Linked DNA regions of Homo sapiens. The protein of the gene in region 7 purifies or fractionates together with the protein of the main gene of each other region. This does not show direct contact. Each region holds a gene or a part of one and is shown on either strand. Other genes may lie near its edges. The genes, in order: GIT2, GDI2, ADAR, EIF4E, PFAS, ANXA2 and PAK2.

Evidence for each region.
Region 1: the proteins of PAK2 (region 7) and GIT2 purify together in Homo sapiens (affinity purification with mass spectrometry; 3 studies listed by BioGRID and IntAct, with this or other methods). This does not show direct contact.
Region 2: the proteins of PAK2 (region 7) and GDI2 purify together in Homo sapiens (co-immunoprecipitation; one large-scale study listed by IntAct). This does not show direct contact.
Region 3: the proteins of PAK2 (region 7) and ADAR purify together in Homo sapiens (affinity purification with mass spectrometry; one large-scale study listed by BioGRID and IntAct). This does not show direct contact.
Region 4: the proteins of PAK2 (region 7) and EIF4E purify together in Homo sapiens (co-immunoprecipitation; one large-scale study listed by IntAct). This does not show direct contact.
Region 5: the proteins of PAK2 (region 7) and PFAS fractionate together in Homo sapiens (co-fractionation; one large-scale study listed by BioGRID). This does not show direct contact.
Region 6: the proteins of PAK2 (region 7) and ANXA2 purify together in Homo sapiens (co-immunoprecipitation; one large-scale study listed by IntAct). This does not show direct contact.

The regions. Positions count from the first base shown.
Region 1 is NC_000012.12:109,985,826-109,990,195, forward strand, and holds part of GIT2 (ARF GTPase-activating protein GIT2), read right to left. Parts: intron 3,978-4,370; coding exon 3,865-3,977; intron 3,244-3,864; coding exon 3,138-3,243; intron 1-3,137. UniProt on the Homo sapiens protein: GTPase-activating protein for ADP ribosylation factor family members, including ARF1.
Region 2 is NC_000010.11:5,799,256-5,803,625, forward strand, and holds part of GDI2 (rab GDP dissociation inhibitor beta), read right to left. Parts: exon of another isoform or gene 3,836-4,370; intron 1,451-3,835; coding exon 1,343-1,450; intron 1-1,342. UniProt on the Homo sapiens protein: GDP-dissociation inhibitor preventing the GDP to GTP exchange of most Rab proteins. By keeping these small GTPases in their inactive GDP-bound form regulates intracellular membrane trafficking.
Region 3 is NC_000001.11:154,581,117-154,584,616, forward strand, and holds the end of ADAR (double-stranded RNA-specific adenosine deaminase), read right to left. Parts: 3' UTR 941-3,500; downstream 1-940. UniProt on the Homo sapiens protein: Catalyzes the hydrolytic deamination of adenosine to inosine in double-stranded RNA (dsRNA) referred to as A-to-I RNA editing.
Region 4 is NC_000004.12:98,881,455-98,885,003, forward strand, and holds part of EIF4E (eukaryotic translation initiation factor 4E), read right to left. Parts: coding exon 3,468-3,549; intron 1-3,467. UniProt on the Homo sapiens protein: Acts in the cytoplasm to initiate and regulate protein synthesis and is required in the nucleus for export of a subset of mRNAs from the nucleus to the cytoplasm which promotes processes such as RNA capping, processing and splicing.
Region 5 is NC_000017.11:8,255,271-8,259,640, reverse strand, and holds part of PFAS (phosphoribosylformylglycinamidine synthase), read right to left. Parts: intron 4,140-4,370; coding exon 3,950-4,139; intron 3,837-3,949; coding exon 3,731-3,836; intron 3,375-3,730; coding exon 3,234-3,374; intron 3,118-3,233; coding exon 2,993-3,117; intron 2,807-2,992; coding exon 2,678-2,806; intron 1,835-2,677; coding exon 1,703-1,834; intron 1,571-1,702; coding exon 1,442-1,570; intron 1-1,441. UniProt on the Homo sapiens protein: Phosphoribosylformylglycinamidine synthase involved in the purines biosynthetic pathway. Catalyzes the ATP-dependent conversion of formylglycinamide ribonucleotide (FGAR) and glutamine to yield formylglycinamidine ribonucleotide (FGAM) and glutamate.
Region 6 is NC_000015.10:60,387,568-60,391,937, forward strand, and holds part of ANXA2 (annexin A2), read right to left. Parts: exon of another isoform or gene 2,646-4,370; intron 1-2,645. UniProt on the Homo sapiens protein: Calcium-regulated membrane-binding protein whose affinity for calcium is greatly enhanced by anionic phospholipids. It binds two calcium ions with high affinity. May be involved in heat-stress response.
Region 7 is NC_000003.12:196,805,291-196,809,660, reverse strand, and holds part of PAK2 (serine/threonine-protein kinase PAK 2), read right to left. Parts: intron 4,310-4,370; coding exon 4,278-4,309; intron 3,083-4,277; coding exon 2,975-3,082; intron 1,880-2,974; coding exon 1,747-1,879; intron 1-1,746. UniProt on the Homo sapiens protein: Serine/threonine protein kinase that plays a role in a variety of different signaling pathways including cytoskeleton regulation, cell motility, cell cycle progression, apoptosis or proliferation.

The DNA.
Region 1 (4,370 bases), on a different chromosome or scaffold from region 7:
CTGGGTAACAGAGACTCTATCTAAAAAAAACAAAAACAAAACACACACACACACACACTAGCCAGGCTTGGTGGCACATGCCTGAGATCTCAGCCACTTGAGAGGCTGAGGTGGGAGAATCATTTGAGACTAGGGAGGTTGAGGGTGCAGTCAGCCATGATTGTGCCACGACACTCCAGCCTGGGCAACAGAGTGAGACTCTGTCGTTTAGGCTGGAGTGCCGTGGCATGATCTCAGCTCACTGCAACCTTCGTCTCCCCAGTTCAAGAGATTCACAGCTGAATTCTACCAGACATACAAAGAAGAACATCCTACTAAAATTATTCCAAACAATCAAAGAGGAGAGACTCCTCCTTAACTCATTCTGTGAAGCCAACATCAGCCTGATACCAAAATCTGGCAAAGACACAACAAAAAAGGAAAACTTCAGGCCAAAATCCATGATGAACACAGATTTTTTAAAAAACTCTTAACAAAATATTAGCAAACCAAATCCAGTAGCACATCAAAAGTTAATCCACCATGGCTGGGCGCAGTGGCTCAGGCCTGTAGTCCCGGCACTTTGGGAAGCTGAAACAGGCGGATCATGAGGTTAGGAGTTCGAGACCAGCCTGGCCAACGTGGTGAAACCCCGTCTCTACTAAAGATACAAAAAATGGCCGGGCGTGGTGGCTTACGCCTGTAATCCCAGCACTTTGGGAGGCCGAGGTGGGCGGATCACGAGGTCAGGAAATCGGGACCATCCTGGTTAACACAGTAAAACCTCGTCTCTACTAAAAATACAAAAAAATTAGCCGGGTGTGGTGGCGGACGCCTGTAGTCCCAGCTACTCAGGAGGCTGAGGCAGGAGAATGGCATGAACCCGGGAGGCGGAGCTTGAAGTGAGCCAAGATTGCGCCACTGCACTCCAGCCTGGGCCACAGAGCAAGACTCCGTCTCAAAAACAAACAAACAAACAAACAAACAAAAAAAAACCAAAAGATTAGCTGGGCCTGGTGGCACGTGCCTGTAATCCCAGCTACTTGGGAGGCTGAGGCAGGAGAATCACTTGAACCTGGGAGGCGGAGGTTGTAGTGAGCCAAGATCATGCCATTGCACTACAGCCTGGACTACAGAGCGAGACTCTGTCTCAAAAAAATAAAAAATAAAAAATAAAAATAAAAATAAAAAAATTAACCCATCATGATCAAGTAGGCTTTTTTGCTGAGATTCAAGGCTGGCTCAACATACACAAATCAATAAATGTAATTTGCCACATCAATAGAAGTAAAAGCAGGCCAGGCGCGGTGGCTCCTGCCTGTAATCCCAGTACTTTGGGAGGCCGAGGCGGGAGGATCACGAGGTCAGGAGATCGAGACCATCCTGGCTAACATGGTGAAACCCTGTCTCTACTAAAAATACAAAAAAAATTAGCCGGGTGTGGTGGTGGGCACCTGTAGTCCCAGCTACTTGGGAGGCTGAGGCAGGAGAATGGCATGAACCTGGGAGGCAGAACTTGCAGTGAGCTGAGATCGCACCACTGCACTCCAGCTTGGGCGACTGAGCAAGACTCTATCTCAAAAATAAATAAAAATAAATAAATAAATAAATAAATAAATAGAAGCAAAAGCAAAAACCACATGATCATCTCAATAGATGCAGAAAATGTTTTCTTTTTTTGAGACAGGGTCTTGCTCTGTTGTCCAAGCTGGAGTGCCATGGTGTAATCTCAGCTCACTGCAACCTCCACCTCCTGGGCTCAAGTCATCCTCCAACCTCAGCCTCCCAGGTAGCTGGTACTACAGGCACGGCCACCATACCCGGCTAAAATTGTTATATTCTTTGTAGAGACGGGGTTTCGCCATGTTGCCCAGGCTGGTCTTGAACTTCTGAGCCCAAGTGATCTGCCAGTCTCAGTCTCCCAAAGTGCTGGGATTACAGGAGTGAGCCATCGCACCCGGCCAAAAAGTAATAAAAAAAGTTCTGAATAAGTAAGTTCTCATGCTCTGTGTGAGTAAGCATTTATCCAAGGCAGCGCTTTGAAAATATGCACATTTCTTACAGCATCTCTCAAAAACATGCGAAGGCCCACATAAAGAAAACCACCTCACTCGTTTTACAAGTATCATAAACCATTCTGTGTACTATAGCTTTGAGTCACACATTGCTTTCTGAAGATCATACTTACTGTTCAACCTGGAAACCTGAAGAAGTCCCCTTCCTTTAGTACTTTTTCTAGTCCTTATTAAAAAGAAACAATTGTCCTATAATCTTTCTAGTCCCTTCTAGAAACAACTCTGAGATGGTTCCTATTTCAAAGTTAAACAAACAAAAAACTTATCAAAATATAATTTAAAAGCCATATTGGAAAAACACAAACAGCCTTCCAGAGACTTACTTTTCCTCTTTGCCCTGAACCTCCACTATATGAATGGCTGCCATTTGAATTCAGATTAAAGACGAAACCGACTGACAAAAAAGCTATTAATTAATGAATGTGCAGAAATGAGTTTTTGTTTTTCTTTCTTTAAAAACTTTTTTCAGCCTGGGCAACATAGCAAGAACCCGTCTCTACAAAAAATAAAAAATATTAGCTGGGTATGGTAATGCGCCTGTAGTTCCAGCTACTCGGGAGGCTGAGGTGGAAGGATTGCTAGAGCCTGGATGGTCAAGGCTGCAGTGAACCGTGATTGCACCACTGCACTCCAGCCTGGGCAACAGAGCAAGACCCTGTCTCAAAAAAAACAAACGAAAAACAAAAAAACCCTGGCCGGGTGCAGTGGCTCACGCTTGCAATCCCAACACTAGGAGGCCGAGGCAGACGGATCACCTGAGCTCAGGAGTTCGAAACCAGCCTGGCCAACATGGTGAAACCCCGTCTCTACTAAAAATACAAAAATTAGCTGGGCATGGTGGCATGCGCCTGTAATCCCAGCTACCTAGGAGGCTGAGGCAGGAGAATCGCTGGAACCCGGGAGGCAGAGGCTGCAGGGAGCCAAGATCGCGCCACTGTACTCCCGCCTGGGTAACAGAGACTCTGTCTCAAAAAAAAAAAAAAAAAAAAAAAGCCCACAACCAGACTTTTTTTTCGTTTTTTCAAATAAAACAATATGCTGTCTCAGCCCGCTCTTTTAGGGATTTTAAAAGGTGTGACCCACCTTGCTAAGATCTTTGGCAGTCACACTATCGTCATCCCGGCAGGGCAAGCGATGGACGAACGCTAACATCTGATACTTGGCTCTGATGAATTCCGCTTTATTGGGACTGGTTCAAAAACAAAAAAGAAAACAGTTCACTCGTTCAGATACAACAATCCCCATTCTTTGTACTGTAAAAAGAAGAGGAAGTGACCCACATCCCCCACTTGAGAATAAAATGAACAATGCTCAAGTAAGTTTCAGCAAGGTTTAAGACCTGCAGTTTGAAAACATACATTAGTTATTATAATGGCTGGGACTCCAGAGTACCTGCTTTTTATAGTAGCCCTCTTCTCTGTGTAATTGTCTGAACTGATTTAGCAACTTTGGGAGAAAGCAGCATTTAGTCCCATCTTATAAGTGAGGCAACAGGCAGACGGGTGCCCAGACCTAGATTTCTGGTCTGATCGCCTCTTATTTGAGTATAAGTTTAAATCTGATTACATTTACAGACTCCAAGCCATGGTTTCCAACTGAGGAAGCCACTTACTCCTGCTGGGTGGCCATGCTAAACAGATGGTCCTGCCCCACCCCATTCTGCATTTCTAATAGCAAAGAACCTGATGCACAACTAGGGTAACCCCCTCCTCTGCTGCCCTTGCGGAGACTGACCAAAAATAGCTGCACTCCTTTCAGTGGGCCCCATTTGTTATGAAGAAATAAAAGTATTTATAAACATTCCACTCACTGTACTTTATCCTGTGGATTAGCTTTACGTCTTCCACTCATAATAGACGCAGGGTCCAGCAAAGAATGCTCCCATATAGAGTTAGCACCGTTATTATACAAGGTCTCAACCATCTAAAACCAAGCAGGATGACATAAGACTTTAATTTCTTTTCACAAATATTCAATGGGGATCAGTGACTGAACAGAGTAAACAAAGTCCTGTTATAAACACTCATTTGTTAGGAATATCATTCATATCATTGTTTTCTGATTTGAGAATGAGAAAGATGATCAATCTATATGCAGGATTCAGCTTTGACTAGTAGGATAGTTAAATACCTAAAGTGTGACTGAACTGTTCTTATTCTGTATGAAAGAAAAAAAAGTACTCTGACACCTTAGAGCAGGGTTTCCCAAACCTAATTAAACACTATTTTCAACATTCTTAATGACCCATGTACTGTCTATATTATTCACTTAATATTTGTCTTTAAAGCCACTTACTTGTAAAAACAACTACAGTTT
Region 2 (4,370 bases), on a different chromosome or scaffold from region 7:
GAGCCCAGGAGTTCAAGGCTACAGCAAGCTACGATCGCACTGCTGCACTTCAGCCTGGGCAACAGGGCAAGGCCCTGTCTCTTAAAAACAAACAACAACAACAAAGAATAAAGCGCTCGGGCGTGGTGGCTCATGCCTGTAATCCCAGCAGTTTGGGAGGCCAAGGCAGACAGATCACATGAGGTCAGGGGTTCCAGACCAGCCTGGCCATCATGGTGGAACCCCGTCTCTACTAAAAATACAAAAATTAGCCAGGCATGGTGGTGCACGCCTTTAATCCCAGCTACTTGGGAGGCTGAGGCAGAAGAATCACCTGAACCCAGAAGGTGGAAGCCATAGGGAGGCGAGACTGTGCCACTGCACTCCAGCCTGGGCGGCAGAGCAAGATTCTGTCTCCAGAAAAATAAATAAGAGAATAAAGAGAAAATTATACCAAATACAAACAGCTACGTAAGAGATTACTGGGACCACTGGGAAATTTGAATATGGTTCTGGATATGATATAATGGTATTATGCTTATGCAGGAGAATGTTATTCTTAGCAGATGAATGCTGAAATATTTTGCTCAAGCCTCATGATGTCTTATCACTTTCAATGGATCAAAACCAGTAACAAAAAAAGAGACATGAAAAAAATACAGCAAACTTTAACTGCTGAACTCTGATGGAAGATTTTTTTATACATCGTATTATTCTTTAAACTTTTCAGTATTACTGAATATAGAAAAAAATCCTTTTTGGTAAGTATTGTCTAATAAGTCACTGATTAAAGTCATTGATGATATCTATCTCCCATAAGACACAGTACACATCATATCCATATACGTAGGTGTTCAACAAACCTCACGCAGAAAAACAATCAATATATTAAAACACACTGTGGAAATGCTATGTGTCCACGTTCAAAAAAAGTAGGAAACAAGGCAGTATAGCAAAAGGAACTAAGCTTTGTAGTCATGTAACTTGGGTTTACAACCCATCTCAGATTTTAACCCCACAGAGACTATGTTAAATGGAGATTAAAAAAAAAATCTTTGAGGGACTGAGAAAATAAATAAAGCCATGAGGAAAGCACTGGACTTGCGCTGGCACATCAGACGATCCTCTACCCTCCCTTCCTAGACTATTCTCTGTTAATGCTAAGAGATAACTGCTCCACATAGCAACAAAAGTCAAAATGTAAATTTCTATGAGCTTCAAACCAGAAGCTCCTGAAAAACAGTGCTCCAGATATTCCATTTAACAAAACAAAATTAAGACCATCTCTAAGGAATAAGGTAGAGATTCACAAGTGAAATACTCACAAAGTGTGAGAGGCGTATGAAATTTGACTAACACTTACATCTTCCAATGGTGTTATAGATGCACTCTCTCCTCCGTAGTAAGGGTTTCGATCCATATGAAGAACTTTCTTGCCATTCACTGACATTATACCTGACAGGATACATTCCTATAGAAAAAGCATAGTACCTTGAAAAGAAAGTTCTACAGCATATTTAAAACAGATCATTTTTTTCAAGCCTGCCATTACACATTCTCTTAGTAATTACACTTATATTCATGCAACATGACATAATTTATGAAGAAAGCCCTTAAGAAACCAGGGGTCCAGGTGTGGTCTGTGGGCTCCTATGCATCCCAAGATTAAAACTGTTTCATAATAACACTAAGACATTAGTCACCTTTTAATTTTTTTTTTTTATTTATTTTTTGAGATAGAGTTTCACTCTTCTTGCCCAGGCAGGAGTGCAATGGCGCAATCTCAGCTCATTGCAACCTCTACCTCCAAGGATTCAAGCAGTTCTCCTGCCTCAGCCTCTTGAGTAAGTGGGATTACAGGTGCCCGCCACCACACCCGGCTAATTTTTTGTATTTTTAGCAGAGACAGGGTTTCACCATGTTGGCCAGGCTGGTCTTGAACTCCTGACCTCAGGTGATCCTCCCGCCTCAGCCTCCCAAAGTGCTGGGATTACAGGCGTAAGCCATCGTGCCCAGCCTAGTCACCTTTTCAGTGTTGACACTTCCACTGATGATGTAAAATCAATGGTGGATAAAACAAATTAAGACAGGGCTCTAAACTATACTAGTCATCATTACAGTCTTCATCGCCAGGCATTCATTTAAGGATGTCCTTGATAGGGTGGGCACAGTGGCTCACGCCTGTAATCCCCAGCACTTTGGGAAGCCAGGGGAGGTGGATCACCTGAGGTCAGAAGAGCAAGACCAGCCTCACCAACATGGAGAAACCACATCTCTAGTAAAAATACAAAATTAGCCGGGCATGGTGGCACATGCCTGTAATCCTAGCTATTCAAGAGGCCAAGGCAGGTGAATTGCTTGAACCTGGGAGGCAGAGGTTGTGGTGAACCAAGATCACACCACTGCACTCCAGCCTGGGCAACAAGAGCTAAACTCCATCTCAAGAACAAAAAAAAGGATGTCCTTGATAAAAGCATTAAAAAGTAACTTTATTGGCCAGGCATGGTGGCTCACACCTGCAATCCCAGCACTTCGGGAGGCCGAGGTGGGTGTAATGCTTGAACCCAGGAATTTCAGACCAGCCTGGGCAATACGGTGAAACCCTGTCTCTACTAAATACACAAAAATTAGCAGGGCATGGTGGTGCATGCCTGTAATTCCAGCAACTCAGGAGGCTGAGGCAGAACTGCTTGAACCCAGGAGGCAGAGGCTGCTGTGAGCTGAGACCACGCCACTGCACTCCAGCCTGGGTGACAGAGCAAGACTGAGTAGCAAAAAGAATTAATAAAGTTATTTAATAAACATATACCCTTCAATAGTCATCTTTTAAACATTGTGTGTGAAAAAATGGGAAGAATACAGACAGCACTTCAGCTCAGGGAAAACCTGTGCCACTGATCTGTAAGCTGAACTAGCCGCTTTTTTTTATGAATAATCATTTTTATTTGAAAGAACTGACCAACAAACTATGATTATTCAGATTTAGGTATTTGACATTTTCTCAAAGAAAACCTAAAGGAAAATAACTGACACGTGCTGCCAATAAGTCAAATTTTAAATGAAAATTAGAATTACCGAAAACTTGGCCGGGCACAGCTGCTCACACCTGTAATCCAAGCACTTTGAGAGGCCGAGGCGGGTGGATCACAAGGTCAGGAGATTGAGACCATCCTGGCCAACATGGTGAAACCCCATCTCTACTAAAAATACAAAACTTAGCTGGGCATGGTGGCGCATGCCTGTAATCCCAGCTACTCGGGAGGCTGAGGCAGGAGAATCGCTTGAACCAGGGAGTTGGAGGCTGCAGTGAGCCGAGATCGCGCCACTGCACTCCAGCCTGGTGTCAGAGCAAGACTCCATCTCAAAAAAAAAAAAAGAATTATGGAAAACTTACAACTACCACCATGGGCACACGTCAGGTTCCCCAATACATGAAGAACTTTTCTAACATTATCAGTGACAATACTAACAAATATGATGTTTTGATAATGTAAAATGAAACATGTCAACATTAAGACCCACTTTACTCAGAGTAAACCTTGTTTTCCAAATAACGGGTGAATGAAATTACAAAATCACACAGGAGGAAAAAAGAGGAATTCAAAGTGCAAGCTAGATCAGTGGGTGTTAATATATCAGAATATAAAACATTCATTAATGTGGCTTCAGATTTCATACTGCTATCTCTTAAAAACTACCACTTGTGCTTTTGTGTAAACCAAAGAATATCTACAATAACCTGAAAGGCTATATTTAAATTACTCCTCCCTTTTCCAATTACATGTCTGTGTGAGACCTGTTTTCATATACTTCAGCCTAGACAATATATCGCAACAGAACTGAACACAGAAGCATGTATGTGAATTCAGTTTTATTAAGCCAGACATTAAAGGATTTGCAGAAAACGTGAAATATTGATAGTCTTCTCACAATTTTGTTTTAGAAAATATACTCAGGCAGATGGCTTAAGCCCAGGAGTTGGATGGAGACCAGTCTGGGCAACAGGGCAAAACCCTATCTCTGCAAAAAATACAAAAATTAGCTGGGTGTGGTGGTGAGCACCTGTAGTCCCTGCTACTCAAGAGGCTGAGAGGTGGGAGGATTACTTGAACCCATGAGGGCAAAGGTGCAGTGAGCCGTGATAAGGCCACTGCACTTCAGCCTGGGTGACAAAGTGAGATCCTATCTCAATAACAAAAAAAAAGTACATATACAGTTAAAATTGTTATACATGTTAACATGTAATCGGTTTATTATTTGTCAGTGATTTATTTATTCCTCCATTTCTAATATGATAAATATCAATAGCTACAACCTTTATAAACAAAAGCTCAAGGTCCTGAATTTTTTAGCACGTGAACAGATCCTGAGACTAAAAAGTTTGAAAACTA
Region 3 (3,500 bases), on a different chromosome or scaffold from region 7:
TAAAGGGTCCAGGATGAGTCTTCTAGAAATTCTGATGTAAATTACAATGTGAAAAAAGGTACATTCTCTCTGAAATTCAAGATGGAGAGATAATTTGGATGTCATCTATGATGTAAAAAGAAAATGGTCTGTCTCCTAAAACTACAACCAAGCCTGTCCTGGTCCTGGCTGCAACTTTACTCCAAATATGCACATTCCTGGAAGTCAAACAGCTGGTAGTAGTGGGGTTTGGAGGAGGTAGAAAACACCCCTGAAGGAGAGCTGGAATTATGTACCTAATAGGTGATCCTCTCTCAAGGGATGTTTTCCTACTCTGGGCCTTGAAATCTTGCGTCTCAAGTCCCGTGGGACAAGATATTTAATAGTGGGCTCTGGCTGGGAGCAGTGGCTCACGCCTGTAATCCCAGCACTTTGGGAGGCTGAGGTGGACCTCACGAGGTCAGGAGATTGAGACCATCCTGGCTAACACGGTGAAACCCCATCTCTACTAAAAATACAAAAAAATTAGCCAGGCGTGGTGACAGGCGCCTGTAGTCCCAGCTACTCGGGAGGCTGAGGCAGGAGAATGGCGTGAACCCGGGAGGCGGAGCTTGCAGTGAGCCGAGATCGCGCCACTGCACTCCAGCTTGAGAGACAGAGTGATACTCCATCTCTAAATCAATCAATCAATCAATCAATCAATCAATCAATCGTGGGCTCTGCTGGGGAAGGGCCCTGCTGGGTACGTAATCAAAAGGTGCCTGATGAACCCCACCCCACCCAGACGCAAATTTACCCACAAAGGGAGGTTCTTTGAAATGGCTCCTTTCCAAAGGCTGAGGGACAGCCCTGTCCCCCACAGGTTCATGTCAGATGCCACTGGTGCTGTTATCAGAAACCCCAGGGCCACAGGTCCCTTTGTTCCCATTTTCACCTCCCCCAAGAAACCAGGACTTAAAACTTTCTAAGAATTCAGATTCTTGTTTTTTTTTTATTTATGAGGAATGTATATTGTTAAGTCACTGTTATCAAGGGACACATAAAAGCAGAATCATAAAACTGGACTGCAGCCATCATCACAGTACCCGAGTCTATGCTTGGGGGTCTTCCTCACTCTGCTCTTGGAGTCACAACCAAGACTCCAAAAAACCAACGAAGTCCCTTCAATGTGAGTAAAGGAAACAGCTTCAAGCACTGACAATTTTTACAAGTGATTATTCAAGGAATGCACAGTAGCCACAGTTCAGACAAATCAACTACAAAAATCATTAAAAAGAAGAGTAGGGAGGGTCACTGCTTATTAAAAACAAAAGACTGGACAAAGAAAGTGAAGATAACAGTGGGCAGAAGCTCTGCCTCCTCTGTCCTGTGTGACTCAGAGGGGCATGGGGGCGCAGGGATGTGCGATCTGACACGGCTCGTTTCCAGCAGATGCGTGGAATTCAGGGATGCCTCGCTCTCTTCCTACAACAGAAACTGAATACTACAGGCTTGCTAGATAAGATCTTGGGGGTGAGTGGGGGTTCTGATCTTGTGAGAGCCTGTGTTCCCAGTTAAAGAAGAGGCAGCTGGCCAGAGCTCTGCTGGAGAACCTAATGCCCAAGATGGACCAGAGAGGCCAAACAACCTGAGGACTCAGCAGGTGACAACCCTGTAGCCTGAAGAGGAGAGGGGCTGCGCTGCCTTCTGATGCTGAGAACCACAGACCTCTCTGCCCTGGATGTGGGTGCCAAGACTGATTTACTGTGCCCCCAGCAGACCCAGAGCCAGGGAGCAGGCCTCTTCCACTCCAGGAGACAGGCGCCACTTCCCTACCAGTTCCTTGGGATGCTTTGGTGTTCTGCAAAGGCATCCTTAGTCTATTTTTAGAACTTGCATTTTCTTACTTTGGTCAATTTTTGGTCAAAAGTACAGAGAGCATAGAATAAAAGCAAAGATGTGAATGTCTCTACCAGACAGAGGATGACCTAGTCAGCAGTTTGGAGGGAAATCATCTGAGGGTGCTGGCTCAGCACGTTCCCAGATGAAGGTCTGTCATCTAAAGGAGAGAGGCAGGCTCAGCTCCTGAAGGTCGCAGAGCCTCAGTAGTCCTCCTGAGTGTGTCTAGCTGACTGTTATCGAGGGACACGTAAAAGCAGCATCACAAAACTGGACTGCAGCCATCACCACGGCACCAAGTCTATGCTTGGGCTCTTCCCTGCTCTGCTCTTGGAGTCATGACCAACACTCTAAAAGCCAACAAAGTCCCTTCAACATGAGTAAAGGAAACAGTTTCAAGCACTGACAGTTTTTACGAGTGACTATTCAAAGAATGCACAGGAGCCAGAGAGCCAGACTCCACAGAGAGGCCAAAGGCTCTGAACACACGAGTCAATGTTCATGGAGGTATAGACAAAGGATTCTACCTCACAGAGTTTGAAGACAACCTGCCCTTTCACCCACAACTACTGCTTTCTATGTCAACCCTATAAAGATCAGGTCTGCGCCCTGCCCACGAGCCTACTTCTGAAGCCATCTGGAAAAATGAAAGCACTTGGATAAATGGAAAAGTATGCCTGAATTTTAAATCTGCTCAATTACAGGTTATCTGTAGCAGTTAAGAATCAACATCTATGGCATTCTTTAAAACACTCCTAATTTACATGTGACTTAGTCAACTTCCCTTGGTGTCACTGTCATGAGAGATATTACACCGGGTGGAACAGTGACGTTAAGCCAACAGGATTTTTTGCCCTTATTCTTGCTAAGTCATGATTATCTGAGCAGAGATGATTTTATACCCTCTAGGATTTGTCCCGTTGGCTAGGGTGTACGCCCAGCATTGGCGGGGAAAATATTCCTAGGAATGCTTTAGGAGAAGAGGCAGCTGGAAGCTTGGCAATATTCCAAGGCATGCCCGTGCTCCCTGGGAAGTGGTCTGTGTCATCCTGCCGGGTGAAACCTCTGCTATTGCTTGAGCAGCTCCCTTAACCCAGTCTGGCTGGTTCTAGACTTCCCAGCTGCCGGAGAAAGTGATACACTTCCAGGGAAGCAGCTTTCCTTGCCTTGCCCGCCCTGCAGCTGGCTAAAGTGCAGGATGGGAGGATGGCTGGGCATTATCTGCAGGCTCCAATCACACTTCCGTGGCACTGGGAACTGCAGTTTTCAACTCCTACCCTTACAAATGTTTCACCAAATCCTTTATGTTCACCTCTTTGCCCTCTGAGGGGGAAAAGGAGACATTCAGATCACAAGGAAAGAATCTCAGAAGGGAAAGAGGGGAAGTAGAGGGGTCTGCGTAATCCACAAATGAAATTATCAGTCCCTGACATGATCCAGAGTTGACTGAAACCTAATCAAGACCGCAAGAGGTCAGTGTAGCAAACACAAAGGGAAAGGAAATGGAAACAAATCAAAACAAAACTTTTAAGAGGAAATGGACCGCAGGTGCTCAGTGACTATGTATGCTTTGGGTAGAAAGAAAAGATAACTTCTTAGGTTTCTGCCTCTTCACTTGGGGGAAAAAAGGGGGGCCTGGCCAG
Region 4 (3,549 bases), on a different chromosome or scaffold from region 7:
AAGTAAGGACAGTCCCTGAGCTGACTGCATTTATAGTCTAGTAGAGAAAACATAATCAAATAATCACAAATACATGACAGACCTGTATCACATGCATACTTAAAAACAGAAATCTGTAAAACAAACATGTTTCATTCTTTGATCTAAAATGTTACATTTCACGTCTGAACCCTAGCAAATATTGTATATTACTACACAAATTATATTAACCATACCTGTTATAAGACTGCACAAACAAAAACTAAACACTTTGAGGGAGATTAAACACTTCGAGGGAGTGAATGAAACACTTCGAGGGAGAATGTAATTTCTGCTTTACATACTAACTTTACAACCTAATTTTCAAGTAAGACATGACTCTATTGCAAGAATAAAATGGCACTTGTCATGAGTGCCAAAGAGTAAACATAAGGGCTGTGATACTGTATAACAAGGAGATTCTAATCTCATCTACAACATTAGAGAAGTCTTCCCCTTTAAATATCACGAGGTCAAAAGGATAATGTTAAGAGAATGAGCACATTTGAAAGCTGAGAAATAAAAATTAGGCTGTGTGGCTATGGCTTGTAAGTAAAGTGAACATGAGATAAAGCTGACAAGGTTTCAGAGGAAGATCACAGAGAGCTTCATAGGTCATCTTAAAAATTTGAATCTTTGGCTGGGCGCGGTGGCTCACGCCTGTAATCCCAGCACTTTGGGAGGCCGAGGCGGGCGGATCACGAGGTCAGGAGATCGAGACCATCCTGGCTAACATGGTGAAACCCCGCCTCTACTAAAAATACAAAAAATTAGCCGGGTGTGGTGGCAGGTGCCTGTAGTCCCAGCAACTCGGGAGGCTGAGGCAGGAGAATGGCGTGAACCTGGGAGGCAGAGCTTGCAGTGAGCTTGAGTGAGACTGTGCCACTGCACTCCAGCCTGGGTGACAGAGCAAGACTCCGTCTCAAAAAAAAAAAAAAAAAAGAAAAAAGAATCTTTAGGAAAAAAATAGTAAAAATTCAAAAATAAGCAAAAATCAAATAAAAATAAAGGAATAAAGATATTAATGGAGTTAAATCCTCCAACATGATACTAGGATAGGTTTTTTTTATACCTTCCAGAAGATTTACTACCTTCCCCCTAAAATAAGGTATTAAAAAGTAATTTTATGGTAACTAAAGTGTTAATTATCAAATTTGCATTATAATGCAATGCATTCCTTTCAATTATACTTAATTATTAAAAATGTCAAAAAGCAAGACCATTGAGTCATGCAAATTGGAAGGTTAAAAAAGAAAATCTTCGTTTGAAAATCTGAAGTCTTAATATACACTCAAAAACATTTAATATTGACAAAAATACAAAACTTCCGTAGGAAAAAAATTCTTAATTTAACTCATTTAAAAAAAAAAAAAGTAAATCCTCCAAAATTAGGTTTTGATGCTGGAAGAAACATTAAAATATGATGACAAATCAACTCTTTTCTCTTATGGAACCCCATATAGCATGAAATGTAGAAAATCCCTATACCTTTTGATCCAGAAATAAATTATGTTCACATAAAAATTTACATGGCTGAGAGCAATGGATCACGCCTGAAATCCCAGCACTTTGGGAGGCTGAGGCAGGTGGATGACTTGAGGCTAGGAGTTTGACACCAGCCTGGCCAACATGGCGAAACCCTGTCTCTACAAAAACTACTGCAGTGGTTCAGGCCTGTGGTCCCAGCTATTCAGGAGGCTGAGGCAAGAGAATCACTTGAACCCAAGAGGTGGAGGTTGCAGTGAGCTGACATCGCGCTACTGCACCCCAGCCTGGGCAACAGAGTGTGACTCTGTCTCAAAAAATTAATTAATTTTAAAAAGAAAAATTAATAATATTTGAAAAATCACAAAGGGGCAAACCAAACATTTTGACCACTGACTGACCAGCACTTAATTTTAACATAAAATTGTAAGTCAAATTTTTTTTTTTTTTTTTTTTTTTGTGAGACAGTCTCGCTCTGTCTCCCAGGCTGGAGCGCAGTGGCCCAATCTTGGCTCACTGCAAGCTCCGCCTCCCGGGTTCATGCCATTCTCCTGCCTCAGTCTCCCAAGTAGCTGGAACTACAGGCGCCCGCCACCACGCCCAGCTAATTGTTTTTTTTGTATTTTTAGTAGAGACGGGGTTTCACCGTGTTGGCCAGGATGGTCTCAATCTCCTGACCTTGTGATCCACCTGCCTCAGCCTCCCAAAGTGCTGCGATTACAGGTGTGAGCCACTGCGCCTGGTGTCAAATATTACTAATATAATTGAGGTAAAAAGAAATCTTAGAAAAAAAATGTCAGCTGGTTTAGCATGGTGGCTCACGCCTGTAATCTCAGCACTTTGAAAGGCTGAGGTGGCTTGATCAAGTCCAGGAGTTCATGACCAGTCTGGGCAACATGGCAAAACCTCTTCTCTACAAAAAATACAAGAAAATAGCCAGGTGTGGTCATACACACCTGTAGTTGCAGCTAATTGGGTGGCTGAGGTAGGAGTATCACCTGAGCCCAGGAGGTTGAGGCTGAAGTGAGCCATGACTGCACCACTGCACTCTTGCCTGAATAACACAGTGAGACCCTGTCTCAAAAAAAAAAAAAAAGCCACTTTTGCAAAGAATAAAATTTACAAAAAAAGGTTTAATAAAACCCTACATATGTGGGTTTTAAACATGGAACAAAAACCAAGATATGTTATATAAATTTTAATGAAAATTATACGTAGTAAACACACATGCTTTAAATGCACATATACTATTTGCCAATAATCACTGAATTATTATTATGAGCATACATTAGCTCTTTTCAAAGTAGTACTTTTTTCCAAACAGCACTTTCAAAGTAGGAAATAATACATTCTCATTTGTGAATGAATAAAAAATGCTACATGCCAAAGGAGAGTGCTCTAGTGGTTATATACTTCACTGCTAAGAAAAAGCAATTTTACAGAAATAAAAAACATATGAAAAAGGCCAGGCGCAGTGGCTCATGCCTGTAATGATAGCACTTTGGGAGGCTGAGGTGGACGGATCACTTGAGACCAAAAGTTAAAAGACCAGCCTGGCCAACGTGGCAAAACCTGGTCTCTACTAAAAATATAAAAATTACCCAAGCATGGTGGCATGCGCCTGTATTCCCAGCTACTCGGGAGGCTGAGACATAACAATCTCCTGAACCCGGGAGGCGGAGGTTGCAGTGAGCCTAGATCATGCCACTGTACTATATATAGCCTGGACAACAGAGTGAGACTCTATCTCTAAATAAATAAATAAATAAATAGCTGTGAAAAAACCCAAAAAAACAAGACGTTGCGCACCAATTGAGCCGTTCAAAATTATAAAAGTGTTCACGAAAACAATACAAGGAAAACAGGATCTACAAACTGAAGTATTTCTAAAGCTACAAATAAAATAACTTCTGGTTTTACTCATCTTAATACTGTAAAATAAGTAGGCAAAGAGCAAAACTTACCCTATATGTGTAACAGCTTCTCTGTTTTCACATTCAGTAGTCCATATTGCTATCTTATCACCTTTAGCTCTAACATTAACAA
Region 5 (4,370 bases), on a different chromosome or scaffold from region 7:
AAGTTTTATTTCTTAATTTTTTTAGAGACAGGGGTCTGACTGTATTCCCCAGACTGGTCTCAAACTCCTGGCCTCAAGTAATCCCCCTGCCTTGGCCTCCCAAAGTGCTGGGATTACAGGCGTGAGCCACTGTGCCCAACCAACTATACTTTTTACTGTTATTTTAGAATGTACTCATTCTACTTATATAAAGCAAGTTTATTCTGGCTGGGCACCATGGCTCACACCTGTAATCCCAGTGCTTTGGAAGGCTGAAGCAGGAGAACTGCTTGAGCCCAGGAGCTCAAGGCCACAGTGAGCTAGGACAGAACCACTGTTCTTCAGCCTGGGTGACAAAGTAACACCCTGTCTCTAAAAAGAGAAAAAAAATCTGACTTGAGAAAGAAAATGCAGATTAAAAATAATAATAATTAACAAAAAAGAGAAAAAAAAGTTTACCTAAAAACGGTATGCCATGTTACATTGACAGTAGCTTCATATTATCTCATATTTACCACGTCTTTTTTTTTTTTTTTGACAGTGGTGCGATCGCAGTGGTGCGATCTCCACTCACTGCAACCTCCACCTCCCAGCTTCAAGTGGTTCTTGTGCCTCAGGAGGCTGGGACTATAGGCATGCACCATGACGCCTGGGTAATTTTTTTTTTTTTTTTTTTGAGATGGAGTCTCCATCTGTCGCCCAGGCTGGAGTGCAGTGGTGGGATCTCAGCTCACTGCAAGCTCCACCTCCTGGGTTCACGTCATTCTCCTGCCTCAGCCTCCGAGTAGCTGGGACTACAGGTGCCCGCCACCACACCTGGCTAATTTTTTTATTTTTTTAGTAGAGACGGGGTTTCACCGTGTTAGCCAGGATGGTCTCGATCTCCTGACCTCGTGATCTGCCCACCTCAGCCTCCCAAAGTGTTGGGATTACAGGCATGAGCCACCATGCCCGGCAGATGCCTGGCTAATTTTTGTGTTTTTAGTAGCAACAGGGTTTCAGCATGTTGGTCAGGCTGGTCTTGAACTCCTGATCTCAGGTGATCCACCTGTCTCAGTCTCCCAAAGTGCTGAGATTACAGGTGCGAGCCACCCTGCCTGGCCCACCACGTCTTGATTGCATTATTTTCTCTTGTGCTTATTTTATTCTCATGCTGTTTTGTTCATCATGGCTCCCAAGTGTACAAAATTCCTGGATAATATTGCCAGTAAGAGGCTGTGTGGATCGTGTAGCAGGCTATGCCATCTAGGTTTGTGTATGTACAGTCTATGAAGTGGGCACAATAATGAAATTACCTAATAGCCACATTTCTCAGAATGAGTTGTCCATCATTATGTGACACATAAGATAAGCCAACATATTAAAAACTAACCACTGAAGTGTTCCCTAAGTTCCCTCCCTGTAGCCATCCTGTGCTGGGGAGAAAGCTGGCTGGATCCAGAGAAAGGTGGCAGGCTCTTACCTGGCTCTGGGGCCTCCTTGCTTATGTGGTCAGCTTCCATGGACCCAATGCCCCCACTAAACATGATGGGCTTGATCCACTCACGCCGCTGGCCGTCTGGGAGCTGGAGGCCCAAGGAGCGGGCGAAGCCTGGAGTGTGAACATCAGAGGGACCTGTCACTCAGTTCCCCCAGTGCTCGCCCAATAGCACAGCCCCTGGGTCGCACACCCCACCCACAAGCCCCTCTGGGTGTTTGTCATCCCTCCACACCCCAGCCTCACCAGCCAGCACTGGTTCCCCAAACTTGTTGCCATAGTCAGAAGCTCCATTACTGGCTTCAATGGCAACCTCCAGGGGCCGGGCAAAATTCCCAGGATACTGGAAGCTTGGATCCTCCCAGGGCAGATTGTAACCTGGGAGGGAAGGAGAGAGAACTGGATGAACTGAATGAACTGTGAAGACAGGCCGGAGCAGCCTGCATCCTTCAGGAAGAGTCAAGGCCACCAAGGACCACCTGCATGGTTGCAATGTTCCACTTCAGGAAGTCCTGCTTTAGGAAGCCCTAGAGCCTGCAGTGAGGCACTGGTCTTCTTTCCACCACCCACACCAGCCTTCCCTCTGAATCTCGCAATCAGAGTTACACAGGCTTTCTGTTTTTTTTTTTGAGATGGAGTCTCGCTCTATCACCCAGGCTAGCGTGCAGTGGCGTGATCTTGGCTCACTGAAAGCTCCGCCTCCCGGGTTCACGCCATTCTCTCGCCTCAGCCTCCTGAGTAGCTGGGACTATAGGCGCCCGCCACCACGCCCAGCTAATTTTTTGTATTTTTAGTAGAGACGGGGTTTCACCGTGTTAGCCAGGATGGTTTTGATCTCCTGACCTTGTGATCCGCCCACCTCAGCCTCCCAAAGTGCTGGGATTACAGGCGTGAGCCACCACGCCCAGCCAAGTTTCTCAGGCTAAGAAACCAGATTTGAGGGGCAGGTACTGATCATAAGACCAACCCAATATCATGCTTTCTGGCTGAATGAAGGCTAGTTTTTAAAGAAAATCGTAGACCTGCAAAAGCAGTCTGGCCACCTCATCTCCCCAGGTCTACACTTATGACCATAGTTAGTGAAAGGCCAGCTATCCTAGAGCCCTTCCTCCTGAGAAAAGGCACACAGGATAACCCTATGGACCTAACAGATAGAAGTTTGCTGCCTGCCAGGACAAGGAATCTGGAAGGGAAGGTGGATAGAGAGGAAGGAGATGGAACCTGGAATATGCAGATTTCCAAAGCAATAGCCGGCAGTGCCAGCCACCACGTGGGCCCCGCGGCCTGTGCACTGGACATCTCGAATCCGGCCCCCTGTGCCAGTGGTTGCACCACTAAAGGGGCATACTCCTGCAAAGAGAGAGTGGGGAGAGGTCTGGGTGCCTCAGAGACAAACCCCCATCTCTGACCACCCCCACTGAAAATAAGGACAACCAATTTCCCTGATTATTTTCCCCAGGCCCACTCCAGGGGCCTGGGACCTTTGCCCTACCCTATTCTGTGATCTCACCTATTTCTCCAGGGAACCCAGCTCACCTGTGGGAAAGTTGTGAGTCTCTGCTGTGAAGACAACATGTCTCAGCCCTTGCTGTTGCTGGAAGCGGCTTGGCCGTGTGGGGTCCTCAGGCCGTAGGAATCGGACTTCCTTTCCCTGGATTGCACTGTGGACATACCCGTCATGGACCTTGCTTCCTTTCTGGGACCTACACTAACCCAACCAGGGCCTGGGGCCTCCCCTCCCCGGGTCCTGACGCCAACCCAGTCTAGGGCACAGCACCTGCTGTTATCACAGAATTTGAGGACGTTGTTGGGGTTCGAGGATTCCTGGGTGCTCATGATGGACTCAAACAGTGAGTGCACCAGCTTCTGCCCATCCACGTGGAGCTGGCCCTTGAAGAACCAGTGTCGGCTGTGCTCGCTGCAGGGGGCGATGCAGGGAGGGGAAGGCAGGTGGAAACGGGGTCATTTCTTAATGCCATGTCTTCTCACCAGCATTTAACAGCAGAGTTACAGCCAAATTCATACTTAGATGACAGATCAAAATATATTCCAAAAAGTCATAATCTTCAAGTATTCTGTCATTTTGGACTATCCAGAGCCAAAGTGAAGATAAAACCAAGATTTGAATGTAGACTCCTTGATGGATGACGGGAGCCCAGGCCCTCAGAGACTCAGGGAGGCCCCTAAGCCAAGGGAGGAACATGAAGGTGAGCCCCTGTGGTCTCTCCCAACACCCATGGGCTCAGGTATGGGAACAACCCCATTTCTCCTCACCTATTGGACTGCGCCAAGTCAAAGGCCTCCACAGTGCTCGGGTTCCGCTGTAGCTCCTGGAAGCGCTTGGTGTAGAAGTCTAGGTCCCAAGAGTCTAAAGCCAGACCTAGGAGACAAATCCAGGAAGAGGTGACTATGGAACTCAGGCAGCCACATTCCAGATCTCAGCACCCCTACTGGCCTATCCTGGACCCTACATCTCCCTCCCCAGCTACTCACCAAGCTCCTGGTTGGCCTTCTCCAGCGCAAGCCGGCCCTCACCCAGTATATTGATAGGGCCATTGAGGGGTTCCGGCATGCTCTCAGGGGAGAAACTCTGGATGGGATGGGGGAAGTGCTGCTCTGTCATCCGGTCGTGCAGGGTAGCCAGAGCAATGGCTTCCACCTCAGCTGACGGGGGGTGGGCAAACTAGGGGTGCAGACACACAGAGGGCAAGGGGTGAAGAGTTTAAGAATGGAGAGAAATGGTCCACCTTCCTACCCTCTTAGTCATGCAAGGCTAGCCCACTGCCACACCATATGGCACTTTTTCTCAGATTACAAAAAGACGCCCTTTCCAGGTATGAATCCATGCCAGGATGCACAAATTAAAGGAAGCATAGGCTGGATTTCTGCCCCATTTACCCCTCAACCAGGTACT
Region 6 (4,370 bases), on a different chromosome or scaffold from region 7:
ACTTCATACCATTCTGGAAAAGGCAAAATTATGGGGACAGCAAAAAGATCAGGGATTCAGGGGAGGGGATTATTAAGGCAATGAAATGATTCTATCTGATATTGTAATGGTGGATGCATCTATGTACAACACCAACAGTGAATGCTAATGTAAACGATGGACTTTGAGTGGTAACGATGTGTCAATGTAGGTTCATCAGTTCTAACAAATGTACCACCCTGATACGGGATGTTGACAGTGGAAGCTATGCGTATGTGGGAACAGGGGAACATGGGCATTCTTTGTATTTTCTATTCAACTTTGCCATGAACCTAAAACTTTCCTAAAAATGAAGACAATCGGCCGGGTGCGGTGGCTCACACCTGTAATCCCAGCACTGTGGGAGGCCGAGGCAGGCAGATCACGAGGTCAGGAGATAGAGACCAGCCTGGCCAACATGGTGAAACCCCATCTCTACTAAAAATACAAAAATTAGCTGGGCGTGGGGGCGGGCGCCTGTAATCCCAACTACTCGGGAGGCTGAGACAGGAGAATAGCTTGAAACCAGAAGGCAGAGGTAGCAGTGAGCCAAGATCACACCACTGCACTCCAGCCTGGGCAACAAGAGCAAAACTCCGTCTCAAAAAAAAAAAAAGACAATTTAGAATAGTCTTGCTCTGTAGCAGAACCGTCCAATACAGTAGCCACCAGCCTCATGTGGCTACAAAGCATCTGAAATGTGGTCAGTTCAAACTGAGATGTGCTATAAGTGTAAAGGACATTCTGAATTTTGAAGACATAGTATGAAAAAATTATATAAAATTTCTCATTTATAATTTCTTTCTTGGTAAAGGCAGGGTCTTGCTATGTTGCCCAGGCTGGTCTCGAACTCCTAGCCTCAAGTGATCCAAGCACTGAGATTACGGGCATAAACCACTGTGTCCAGCCCAATAATTTATATATTGATCATATATTACAATTACAACTATGATATGTTGAATATATCTTATTTCCATTTAATTTCCTTTTTCCTTTTTCCATTTTTTTTCCTTTTTTTTTTAATGTTTCAGTAGAGACAAGGTCCCACTGTGTTGCCCAGGCTGGTCTTGAATTCCTGGGCTCAAGCAATCCCTCCGCCTTAGCCTACCAAAGCACTGAGATTACAGGGGTTAGCCACCACACCTAGACCTTTTTTTTTTTTTTTTTTGTCTGAGACAGGGTTTCTCTCTCTGTTACCCAGGCTGGAGTGCAGTGGTGCAATCATAGCTCACTGCAGCCTTGATCTCCAGGACTCAAGAGATCCTCCTGCCTCAGCCTCCCAAGTAGCTGGGACTACAGGCGTGTGCCACTACACCTGGCTTTTTTTTTTCCAGTAGAGATAATGTCGCGTTACCTTGCCCAGGCTGACAGTCTTCTTGACAGAGCAAGAAATCTCTAACTTCAACATGGACCAAGAAACATTCTAGAGGGTCTCATCAGTATCCCTCAGCCCGAGAATTACCGAAGCAGAGGTGAAACTCCTAGGATGGACATCAAACCACCCAAGCCCTGGCCTTAACTATCACCCCTGGACTCAGTCAGAACTGGACCAGGTCTGCAGCAGGGGATAAACTGTTGTCATCTGCTGTGCAGAATTCTAGTCTCTACCATAAACAGGCAAGAAATAAAAAATGCCAAACGTAAAACAAAAGCAAAACCAGGGAACTAGCAAGTCAGAGTTGCAAACAGAGTTGTTTCCACTTAGAGAGTATAGATTAAATTCCACTTGTTTATGAAATCAGACACCTCACATTGGTTCCGATGTTTAGAAAATCTCAACTAGAGGCACGGTAACTTTTCATTGTGTTGTTCTTTCAAGTTGTCTTTCCAGCTCTGAGCTTTGTAGACTGCTGCCTACCCGTGTCCCACATGGGACTCCCCAGTACTGTGCAGATCAAAGACAATCTGATAGGCTTCTTTACACTCTCCATTCATGTTAATTCTTCTCCCACAGCCACAACACCTTGAGGAGACTGTTAAAAGCCCCACAAATCTTCCTTTCGGTTTCACCATTCATAACTGTGCTGCTCTTTCATCAAATCAGTCCTGCATGCCACCACCAACTAAATCTCCCCATTTAATCTTGTCAAAATCATTTGACATCATTCAAAATCAGTCCTCCAGCAGAGCCCAGCCTTCAAAGATGAGCATCAGAATCCTGTAAACAGTAAACAGTTCCCTCTGTTTACTCCTCAGCTACAGTTGACTAGGGCCAAAATGTGACTTGCCTCTCCGCACTCACCACTACTTCAGTATCTGCTCCAACAGGGTCACCACGACCCCTACTCTACAGAACTCTATCTTGCCTTTCACTGCCAGGGCACTTTTTGATACCACTTCATTCATCCATTCGGCAGAATGTTTTAAGTGCCCTACACGTGCCAAGTATTCAAATGGTGAATGCATAGGTACAATTCAAAGCAGTAGAAAGTATATGGTTGACCTCATCTTCCCTACATAGTCCCAGTCCCCCTACAGATTTCAGATTATCTTTACATAATGCAGGTGCTAAATCAACTTGAAAACAATGAGTTGCTATTTTGCATAACATTTATACTATGTATAACCATTTTGCAGAAAAAAAAAACAAAACACAAACATCACAATAACCACAAAGTCACACTTACCACAAAGCAGTATCTATGAAATTTGACATTATCCCATGCAGGTGCCTTTTGTATCCATATAAATATTTCCTACTTCATGTGAGTTTAATGGCAAACATTTTCACCCTAGAAATAAAATATGGCCACTTTCCTCCCATGCCGATAGCATTCCGGAAAACATGGTGAACATTCCTAAAACCCACTGGGCTTTCTGTAAGAAGTGTGGCAAGCACCAACCCCACAAAACGGCACAATACCAGGACTCCCTGTATGCCCAGGGAAAGCGGCGTTATGACAAGAAGCAGAGTGACTATGGTGGGTAGACTAAGGCAATTTTCTGGAAAACGGGTAAAATTACAAAGGAGGTTGTGCTGAGGCTTGAGTGTGCTGACCCCATCTGCAGATCTAAGAAAATGCTGGCTGTTAAGACATGCAAACATTTTCAACTGGGAGGAGATAACAAAAGAAAGGGCCAAGTGATCCAGTTCTAAGCATCATCTTTTGTTTTATTATGAGGACAATAAAATCTTGAGGTTATGTCCAAAAAACAAAACAAAATAAAAAGAAATAAAATACAGTGCTTGCTTCTTCACTCCATCAAATCCCCTAGCAATGCAAAGTCATTTTGCATATGATCTATTATTCGCTGGAAGGAACAGTTGGCTTTGCGATTCACTGTTTGTTAAAACATTAGTTTAATATAGCATATTTGACTAATGAGAATGTGTCAGTGTGCTGCTATCCTTGAAAGCAGGAAAAGGAAGTCTTGGCAGTGCTACTGTAGGTTACAAACACTGGTAATACGCAAGGAATTAATCAACGAACCCATACCAAGCATACGCTGAGCCTGCACTATATTAAAGGATACAAAAGACACTTATAAAACTGTGAAATGCAGACTTCCACCCTGCAGGACCTTTGAGCTCTCTTCCCTTCGTGCCTCTGTGACACACTGAGAGTCTAGTCCAGGGTCACCCAGTGAATTAAGTAGCTGAGGCAGGGCCAAAACCCAGATCCCCAGACTCCTGGGCCAATGCCCTTTCAACCTCACCACAATGGTTCTTTATTCCAAGTGATTAAGACACAGAGAGAAAGATCACAGCCATCAGAGCGGGATTAGTTAAGGGCTTAACAGGGAGGTGCTGTCTGCCTAGGCTGAGAAGGGTGAATCACCATGGGAGGTTCCAGCCAAGAAGCAAGGGGGAAGGCCTGGGGAGAGGGGAAGAGGAATAATGCCCCAGGGTGGCAGAAGAACAAGACTACAGGCTGGAAAATGAGCCACGTCCAGTGGGGTGCCCTGTGGGGAACCTAAAATATAAGTCTCTGAATGGTGCAAAGTTAAGCTTGCCTATGGAAATACTGGGGAACCTATGAGCCAAAATGATTGGGACTCAGTACTCATATTTATCTATTCACCAAAACATTTGCTCTGGAGGCAGAATTTTCTTACTGAAAACAACTACTCTGACTTCAGTGTACTTACTGTTTTGAATGAAAATAAAAAATAAAGCCTACATGCTGTATGAGACAATTTCACCTCTACTCACTCCTCATCACCGTATAAAACTCATAAATCCATTAAAAACAGAACCACTACTCCTTTTCTGGCAGACTTCTCTAAAGAACATGAAAATGGCAGTTTGCACCACTCTTTCCAACACTTCAACCTCACCCAGCTTGCCGACTGGTTTCAACTCTCCAACAAGAAAAAAAAAAAAAAATCAGCAAATTCAATCTGTTGATGAG
Region 7 (4,370 bases):
TTTTTTTAAGTAGCAGCTCTCCTAAAATAATTCTTATATGCTCATAGAGTAACAGAGCAGGCCAGGTGTGGTGACTCATGCCTGAGGTCAGGAGTTTGAGACCAGCCCAGCCAACATGGTGAAACCCCATCTCTACTAAAACTACAAAAATTAGCGGGGTGTGGTGGCGCACACCTGTAGCCCCAGCTACTCGGGAGGCTGAGGCAGAAGAAACGCTTGAACTGGAGAGGCAGAGATTGCAGTGAGCCACGCCACTGCACTCCAGCCTGGGTGACAGAGCGAGACTCTGTCTCAAAAAAAAAAAAAAAAAAAGATAATAATAATAACAGAGTAAGAGCCAGGTTTATACTTGAAAGCACTGAGAAATCAAAACCAAATAAACATGGGGCATATAAACATTTGTTTATTTTTTAGAGACAGGGTCTCACTCTGTCACCCAGGCTGGAGTGCAGTGGCGCAATCACAGCTCACTACAGCCTTGAACTCACGGGCTCAAGCAATCCTCCTGCCTCAGGCTCCCAGTCAGCTGGGACTACAGACATGCACCACCAGGTCTCGTTAATTTTCTTTTTTTCTTTTTTTTTTGAGGGGGTGGAGTCGGGGTCTAAGTTGTATAGTTCGGCCTTGAACTCCTGGACTCCAGCTATCCTCCTATCTTGGCCAGCCAACGTACCGAGATTATAGGTTTGAGCCACTATGCCCAGGCTTTATGTTTAAAACAATCCTTCCATACAGTATTTTTCCTTGAACCCTCTAGATTAGCATTCTTTAATTGTTAATTTTATTTATTATTATTTTTTGAGACTGAGTCTCGCTCTTTCGCCCAGGCTGGAGTGCAGTGGCACGATCTCGGCTCACTGCAATCTCCGCCTCCCAGGTTCAAGTGATTCTCCTGCCTTAGCTCCCCAAGTAGCTGGGATTACAGGCACCTGCCATGACACCTTGCTAATTTTTGTTTTTAGTAGAGATGGGGTTTTGCCACATTGGCCAGGCTAGTCTTGCTCCTGACCTCAAGTGATCCACCCACCTTGGTCTCCCAAAGTGCTGGGATTATAGGCATGAGCCACAGTGCCCGGCCGGTTCGCTTTTTTTTTTTTTTTTTTGAGATGGAGTCTCACTGTTGCCAGGCTGGAGTGCAGTGGCGCGATCTCGGCTCACTATAACCTCCGCCTCCCGGGTTCAAGTGATTCTCTTGCCTCAGCCTCCCAAGCAGCTGGTACTACAGGCACATGCCACCATGCCCAGCTGATTTTTGTATTTTTAGTAGAGGAGGGGTTTCACCATACTGGCCAGGATGGTCTCGATCTCCTGACCTTGTGATCCGCCCACCTCGGCCTCCCAAAGTGCTGGGATTACAGGCGTGAGCCACCGCGCCCAGCCCAACGACGCAATCTTGGCTCACTGCAACCTCCACCTCCTGGGTTCAAGTGATTCTCTTGCCTCAGCCTCCAAGTAGCTGGGATTACAGGCACATGCCAGCACATCCAGCTAATTTTTGTATTTTTAGTAGAGACGGGGTTTCACCATGTTGGCCAGGCTGGTCTTGATCTCCTGACCTAGTGCTGGGATTTAGGGGTGAACCTGGTGACATCACCAGATTGTAATTGAAGCTACTGTTGCTATAAGGAAACAATTTATTCTTTATACTTTAAGTCACAATGTAAAGTGTAAGTTAAAATCCATCTGGGCCAAATGTTTTAAGAGCCGTGAACAATTTAACAATGATGTAAAATGTAGATAACATACTTAATTTCTCCATAATCTCTTCATCTGTCATCTTAGTCTTCTTTTTCTGTTTGTCTAAAGACTTGGCAGCACCATCAACATGTGAATCACCAACTGGTGCAGGAACAGGGTCAATTACAGACCGTGTGTAAATCTGTGGAGACACAGTTCATTACCAAGGTTTGAGGAATAATGTTTTCAGATATTCTTCCTGGCAAACTAATTCAGTTCTTTGATTTTTAACCTGAACTAAGTAGTCTTTTCCATTGTTCTAAATAATGAGAACACTATTTTCAGATATAAAAGATGTGTAACTAAGAAGAATAAATGTGAAACATTTTTCTTTGGCATAGCATGAATATATTTGAAAAGCTGTCTAGTAAAACAGCAGGTCCATGAATGAAATTTAAGTGTGACCAGGTCTAAAATGGTATAACAATGTATCAAAAAGCACGGTTTAAAAATCATGTTTTTACTACAAATGGTAAGTAAAATGCAAAAGAACAGAAACCTTGATGTTGAAATAACTATTATTAATTCCCATGAAAGTTTTTACACAATTATAATGCCTACCACCCATTTCAAACAGCCAGATTGAAAGGCTAAAGAAAACGGAGTCCTCTGCCATCAGCTTGGCATCCAGAGGCTGTCTCCTGAGCTCTGCCTGCCCGCTGTGCCAGGAGCACAGCCCATTCCACGGCACAGCACCTTCCGCACACTCTACCTGCAGTACTGAAGGGAGCAGAATGGTAACCGCAGTCATTCCTCTCTTCCTGGCTCCATTTAAGGTCATCATTTTTAAAATTCTCCCTTACCTGGTTAGGAATTTCATTCTCAACTGCCTTTTGAATGACAGCAAGGCGCTGAGAGTAGTGTAAAATGGGAGATTAAAATGCATAATCTGGGTAAGAGGAAAGCTCTAAGTTTTAGATTTAGTCGTCATCTACATTGAGATAAACAGAGAAAGCTTGGGAAATAGACGAACCCTCTGGAAAAGGTGTACTATACAAAGAAAAAAGCCCAGTGAGGTGAGTGCGTTAACTTTTAAAGACATCACATTTTAATCTTCAGAAAACTAGTTTTAGGTGAGTGGTCTTTGGGTACAGATTTCTTGGTTAAATTTCCCCATACTAAACGATTTTAAACTTGAGGGCTTTTTAAAAGCAATCACTGAAAGTCAAATACAAACTCTGCTATTTTTTAAAACACACGTGCACACACACAGCCTAGATCACCGATGGAGACTCACTGATTTCGTATGATCCGGTCGCGGGGCAATAACGGGAGGAGCAGTCTCTTCATCATCATCCTCCTCCTCTGTCACTACTGCGGGTGCTTCTGTTCCCTTGGCATTCAGCTGCATTGATGATGAGCAAAGTAAGGAAAACAAGTCCAATAGGCTTAAATGCGACTATCGCCCTTTATGAACGTACTTCAAAAAGTTTGCTTCTTTGATAGCTCATTTCAAAACCACTAAATCTCATTAGCTCTTAGATAACTCAATAGAATTATAATCTAACATAATAAGGCGATTCTATGAATCATGAAAAAGTTTATGAAATATATATATATGGTGAGTACCAAATATTTTAATAAAGTTACCCTAAGCATACATATACAATGTCCTGAAAGTAAACAATGTTACTTGTTAAGACCAAAATCAAAGATCCTCTGGGCTTTGTTATGTCAGAGACATCTGGTGACATTTAAAACAGTCAGATTTGGGGCCGGGCATGGTGGCTCACGTCTGTAATCCCAGCACTTTGGGAGGCCGAGGTGGGTGGATCACAAGGTCAGGAGATCAAGACCATCCTGGCTAACACGGTAAAACCCCGTCTCTACTAAAAACACAAAAAATTAGCTGGTCGTGGTGGCAGGCGCCTGTAGTCCCAGCTACTCGGGAGGCTGAGGCAGGAGAATGGAGTGAACCCAGAAGACGGTGCGTGCAGTGAGCCAAGATTGCGCCACTGCACTCCAGCCTGGGCGACAGAGCGAGACTCTAACTCAAAAAAAATAAAAATAAAATAAATAAATAAATAAAATAAAATAAAATATAAAAAAATAAAACTCCAGGAGACTGTTTCCTCCCAATTGAGAAACTGCAAATAAAACGACTGTTTCCAAAAACTGACTGTGTTTATGCGATAACTTAAGTTTCAGATGACTCTGAAGACTGACAAGGTTCAACTGTTCAGCACCTTTCCACAGTCTATATTCAGTAAAATAGTACCAGAAGGAAAACTGAGGGATGGAGAGGAAAATATATGCTAGCAAGTTCTTTGTGTTCACGTTTGTATATGTTAACATTACCAAAACTAACTAAACTGTTCTGAAGGTCATTATAAATTTTAGTTACATTAAGTATCACATCAAGGAATTTCTATTTAATACGGCTTCTTCAACTAATCAGGTGGCTAGCTAAAAACACCTATTGAGTAGTTATTTACCTCTGATGGCTGTAATTTATTTTAGAAAGCAAAATAAAAACTGAGATTTGTCTTGGGTAACCTAAATTAGAACAAGAGATACAAGAAATAATATAATTAACTTACTGCTGGTGTTCCAGAAGGAAAGCCATCTTTCTCTGAATATGAAACAAAACATAACATTAGCAATTCAAGAAACAGCACTTTTATATGATAAAA